Regions from separate parts of the Homo sapiens genome. Here region 1 is linked to region 2. Evidence: fine-mapped expression QTL. A gene starts in region 2. The other region holds a variant in brackets. All regions are shown on one strand. Distances are between the middles of the regions.

Region 1 (2,914 bases), 65 kb before region 2:
AGCTCACACCTATAATCCCAGCACTTTGGGAGGCTGAGGCAGGCAGATGGCTTGAGAACAAGAGTTTGAGACAGGCTGGGCAAAATGGTGAAACCCAGTTTCTATTAAAAAAAAATACAAAAATTAGCTGGGCATGATGGCATGCAGCTGTAGTCCTAGCTACTCAGGAGGCTGAGGTGGGAGGATCACCTGAGCCCAGGAGGCAGAGGTTGCAGTGAGCCAAGATCACGTGACTGCACTCCAGCCTGGATGACAGAGCAAGATCCTGTCTCAAAAACAAAAACAAAAACAAAAACAAAACAAAACAAAACAAAACACCACCCTCGGTTGTTAACTACACACTCTCAACCATTCAAATCAAGGTAAAAATATATAAGTAAAGAACTCTGAGGAAAGTTCAAAAAGTCCCAGTACAAAAGTTTAGCAGTGACTCATAAGGAAATCCATGCCAGATGTGGTGGCTCATGCATACAATCTCAACACTCTAGGAGGCCAAGGCAGGAGGACTGCTTGAGCCCACGAGTTTCAGACCAGCCTGGACAACATAGTGAGACCCCATCTCTACAAAAATATAAAAAATAAAAGTTGTAAAAAGTAGTTGGATATAGTGGCACACACCTATAATCCCAGCTATTCAGGAGGCTGAGGCTGCAGTAAGCCATAATCACCATAATCACACCAATGCACTCCAGCCTGGGTGACAGAGCAAGGCTCTGTCTCAAAAAAGCAAAAAAAAAAAAAAAGAAAAGAAAAGGAGAGAAAATCCATTAAGCCTTCACTAAGAACCTATTTATTCTGGTCATCTCACTTCTTACAGTCCTAACAGATGAGCAGCTGCACGACAGTTGATTCTACAGACAGACATGAGTAAGAAATAAGAAGCAACAGTATAAATGAAGAGCAGCTGGGGTCTGACCAATACTGAAGAGGCAATGAACTGCAGCATCTCCCAAGGATATCAAGTGAACATATTGAAAACCCAAGTCATCAAGAAAATTAAACTGCATTCAGTAAAATCTGTTCAAAAAGTCAGAAGCTGGCCGGGCGCAGTGGCTCACGCCTGTAATCCCAGCACTTTGGGAGGCCGAGGCGGGCGGATCACGAGGTCAGGAGATGGAGACCATCCTGGCTAATATGGTGAAACCCCGTCTCTACTAAAAATACAAAAAATTAGCCGGGAGTGGTGGTGGGCGCGTGTAGTCCCAGCTACTCGGGAGGCTGAGGCAGGAGAATGGTATGAACCCGGGAGGCAGAGCTTTCAGTGAGCCAAGATCGTGCCACTGCACTCCAGCCTGGGCGACAGCGACAGAGCGAGACTCCGTCTCAAAAAAAAAAAAAAAAAAAAAAAGTCAGAAGCCAAATAATACACTGAGAAAAGCTGTTTGTCAGAAATATCTTGAGTTATCCTTGGTAGTAGCAGGCCTCACTAACCTTCAAACTTCTCTCATGTTAGATGCACATACATTTAAGTGTTATATATTTATTTTATCCATCTATTTCGCTCAGAATCCCACAAATATATTTAAATGTTTTATTTAAACATGAAATAA[T/C]GTTTATTTTAAATGTTATTTTTAAAAAAAGAGCTATTACTAGAATTCACTAAGACAGACACTGAGTGATTTGGTTCCATGATACAAACCTACGGCAGCATGAAACTGAGATAAAGCATCAGCTAGCTGTCCAGCTGCAAGTAATTTCTTGCCCAATTCAAGATGTTTCTCAACATCTGCATTTACTCCACATTCAGCACCTAAAAATAAAATTAAAAACAATCAGTTAACTTTCCACGAACTAAGATTTAATTCTAAAAAATATAATATTAAAAATAGTTATCTGTCTCAGTCATCTACTCAGATGAGAAAAGTCACAGAAGCTGAAAAATGATGTAAAGAACGTAACATAAAATACAAACCCTATTTCATTATATGGAGCACAAGACAAAAAATGTACCCATCTTGACCTAATCAGTCAAAAGAATGTAACCAGTCCAGAAAATAAAGGGAAGTTGTGTAATGCAGAAGTAGTAAAAATATTTTGAATAATAAAATGAAAATTGTTTGAAGGTAGAATCTCACCTTTAATGAACATCATAGAGACTGTTACAATATTTAAGTATTTATTAAGCACCTATAATGCACTAGGCACTATTTTAGGTATCTGCAATAAGTGAGCAACATTAAAAAACTCCTGCCCCTCATACCGTCCTGGCGCCTGATGTTATCGTGGGAGGAGACAGACATGATAAATAAGTAAATTATATAGTATGTTGGGTGAAAAGTACTGTGGAAAAAGTCAAGCCATGTGAAGAGGTAAGGAGTTCAGGGGACTTAGAGTAGCAAATAAGCGCGTAAAGGGCAGGCCTTCTTGAGAAACTGACATCTGAGCAAGACTTGAAAAAAATGAGGAACTCACCATGCAGACAGCTAGGAAAATAGCTTCCAGGAAGAGGGACCAGCAAGGGTCCTAAGTCGGGAGCATGCAGATATGTTCCAGAAACAGGAGAAAGGCCTGGATGGCTGCAGCAGAGCCAAGAGGAAGATAGTAGTATGAGGTCAAAGAAGTAGAGGACCTGTCTACAGCTTTGAATATTTACTTGTCTTAAAACAGGGAACTACTGTGGAATCAATAACATGATCTGATGGACTAGGCCAATTATCAATATGTTGCCTCTCCGCTCTGAATTCATCCTTCGGTACCTGCACTGCAATAAAGGCCTGGAGTTTGCAGGCATTTCCTCTTTACAGTGAGTACAATGTTATGCTTTGTCAGTACAGGGCACTGAAGCAACACTGCAGAAAGGACACTTCCTAGTTCTGCTTGGTGCATTTTACTGTCTTCTGGCTCCTGCTGCATGGTCTGTCATGGGGTGGACTTCCTGCTGCATGGTATGGATGAGGAGGACATCCAGGGGTAC
Region 2 (2,912 bases):
GGTTTGTGCATAGATCAAGAATGCATCATGGCTGCTAAGTCATGCCAAAGTCAATTGATTCTTCTTATTCCAATTCTACACCTGTAGGGTAATATACTGACAGTGGGGATGGGAAATACATGTAACTCAAATGGTATGTCAACAAATAATATTAATTAAGCAATCATCTCTCTCTCTCTCTCACACACACACACAGACAGCTACCGAGTTTGCAAAAACCGGATTTTGCAGAGCAATGGTCCTATCTATCTCATATTGTCTGAAATTCCTTTCTTTTTTTTTCTTTCTTTCTTTTTCTTTTCTTTTCTTTTTTCTTTTTTTTTTTTTTGAAACGGAGCCTCGCTCTCTCGCCCAGGCTGGAGTGCAGTGGCGCGATCTCGGCTCACTGCAAGCTCCGCCTCCCAGGTTCACGCCATTCTCCTGCCTCAGCCTCCCGAGTAGCTGGGACTACAGGTGCCCACCACCATGCCCGGCTAATTTTTTGTATTTTTAATAGAGACGGCGTTTCACCGTGTTAGCCATGATGGTCTCGATTTCCTGACCTCGTGATACACCCGCCTCGGACTCCCAAAGTGCTGGGATTACAGGCGTCAGCCACTGCGCTCGGCCTATTGTCTGAAATTTCTATCTAGAAATCTTTCCCCATAGTACTTAGAGGATTTTTATAGAGATCTTGAATTTTCTTTCAAAATAATTTTAAAATTAGACCAATTTAAAATCCCATCATGGTCATCTTGGCCTTATGGCTTCAAATAAAACTAAAGCAAGGAATTCAACATAAATACATATTTAGCTGTTGCTATGTTTGAAGCCTTGTGCTAAAGTATGGTACAAAGTTGATTCTGTCAGGGAGAAGCACAAGGAAAGGCACTTTTACAACGGCATGTTGGTCCAGTAAAAGTTCTGCAGCTACTCCTCTCTAATTTAAAAACATATATATATATATTATATATATATATATATATAGCTGCATTAGACACTTAGGTTTTGCAAAAGATGCCTTCATTTCTCATGATGGTATATACATACGTTCTGGATTACTTGTTACTTAAAAATACTGACTTTTGTCCCACGTGTTCCAATTTTAGGTTACATAAATGAGCACACTACTCCGGACCCACATCTCCTGTAATTCAGTGCCTAACTTTCTACCAACAAAGATCCGTGCCTTTCATCCTGAAGTGGGCATAACGGAAAGAGACGCAGAAACCTACGTGGGTTTAAATCCTAGAGGGCTTTGGTGAAAAGTCCCTAATCTCGGTTTTCCACGTCACTCAAATGCAGGGCCACATTAGATAGCCTTTTCAAGGTCCTTCGCATCTGCAGACTTCTGCGATTAAAACGCATCTCTTTTTGGAAGATAATTCACCTGAAGCTCCTCTGGGAAATTAGCTTGCTGAGGGCCAGACCAACAACCGGGTAGGAGCGAATCTGGTTTCTCTTTGAAAAGCCTTCCTAGGGTTAGCATCCAGGGCCAGCAACGGAGCGCGCCCCCGAACCACGTGTCTGCGCCAGCTGCCGGATTGGCTGAGCGCATTTTAGCGCTGCGGTCTAGACGCTCGCGGTCCCGCCCAGTTGCCAGAGGAGCCGGGACACCGAGGGAAGAGGCCGGAGGGAGATCGCGGAGGGGAGGGGGCGGGAGGGGGGTGGGGTATCCTGAGTCGTCCGTGGTCCGGAGTCTGGAAGGCCCTAGAGCGGCGCCAGTCGACCCGCCTCGCCACAACTTGCCCAGACCAGACACGTTTCATCCTGCGCCCTGCAAGAAGGAGCCGGCCTGCCTCTCTCCGCTTTGCTGCTCCTCGGCCTCCGCGGGCCCGGCCCGCGTCAGCAGCGACCCTGGGGTCTGGGTCCCCTGTGTCGCCCCCGCCCGCCTGCAGCGCCCGGCACCCGCCCAGGAGCGCGCAGCTGGGGTGAGCCGAGACCGGGGATGCGCCAGGCGCCCACAGGAGGTGGCTGACGGGGCATCCCGATACCCGCGAAGCCGGCCCTCCTGCCTCTCCAGGCTGCGAGCCGAGCCTCTGCAGATCCAGCTGGAGTAGCCGCCGCTGCCCCCACTGCCTGTTTGCCTTCCAAGGAAGGGCGCCGAGGTTCCCCTGGAACCCGCGTCTCTCGGCTTTTGTCTGCTGGTTCGGCTGCCCGGCGGTGCCATGCGCCTGGGACTTGAGGCGCCGCGCAAGGCTGGGGGCCCTGCCCGGGATGGGGGAGGGAGGGAACGGGAAAGCATGCCCCCTTCTTTCCTGTTCCGGCCATCTTGTGACCGAGATCCACGCAAGGGGAAAGGGGTGGTCAGCGGCACGACGCCCCACGATGGAGTGTGGCGGCCAACGGAGATGGGTACCTCGGGCCCGCAGGCCTCTGCGCCCAGATCTCAGCGGGGGCGCGCGGGCCACCCCCACGTTCAGCTCTGAAGCCCTTGGCCCAGATCATGGGTTAATCGTTCTAACAGGCCAGAGGCAGCAAAAATAGGAGGGATAAAGGGCCAGGAGCTGATGTTTCCTTAACTAAGCGCCTAAGTCATTCGATCGTTCTTCATTCACGTGTCCATTCAGCAAATTCTGAACGCCTTCTCCGTGCCTGTCCTCTGCTAGGTTCTAGGGACGTATACTTGAGCAAGAGAGACCACAGCTCTTGTTCCCGCTGATCCTGCAGCCCAGTGGATGGAGTCCAGAATCTACAGACCTGCCAGGTCGGTGTCTTGATGCTCTTAAACAGATGGAGGAAGCTAAGTCTTAGAGCTGACAATTTGTTCTAGATCAGGGAGCAAGTAAGTGACAGAATCAAACTTTGAAACTATTTATGTCTTTAGCACTTTTTATGCCTGGTTGCAGGGAATAAAGGCCAATTAACTTGGACATATGGTTTATTTGAAACCATATGAAGTGCGTGTTTTATTTCCTGGATGTTTTTGCATG

Alleles and levels. Positions count from the first base shown, and alleles are read on the strand shown. Sizes are in standard deviations (SD) of each study's normalised expression.
For the expression in lymphoblastoid cells of the gene that starts at base 1,581 in region 2, allele T in region 1 goes with a lower level than allele C (moderate effect, 0.56 SD a copy in GTEx).

The links. PIP is the estimated chance that this variant, and not a neighbour inherited with it, causes the effect. A credible set is the group of variants that fine-mapping cannot tell apart.
Region 1: its variant is the best candidate, but not a certain one, in a credible set for the expression of DZIP1 in lymphoblastoid cells (GTEx, PIP 0.71).

Annotation. Positions count from the first base shown.
Region 1 is chr13:95,708,063-95,710,976 of GRCh38, reverse strand. It overlaps DNAJC3 (DnaJ heat shock protein family (Hsp40) member C3), which reads right to left. Exons shown (of 12, transcript NM_006260.5): 2 at 1,640-1,750. Among named protein-coding and RNA genes, the nearest start is that of DNAJC3, 32 kb to the right of the region's middle. The variant T/C (reference allele first, on the strand shown) is at 1,551.
Region 2 is chr13:95,643,375-95,646,286 of GRCh38, reverse strand. DZIP1 (DAZ interacting zinc finger protein 1) reads left to right here and starts at 1,581. Exons shown (of 23, transcript NM_198968.4): 1 at 1,581-1,910; 2 at 2,589-2,686. RefSeq lists an enhancer at 1,369-1,418 and silencers at 1,509-1,618, 1,709-1,798, 1,859-1,968.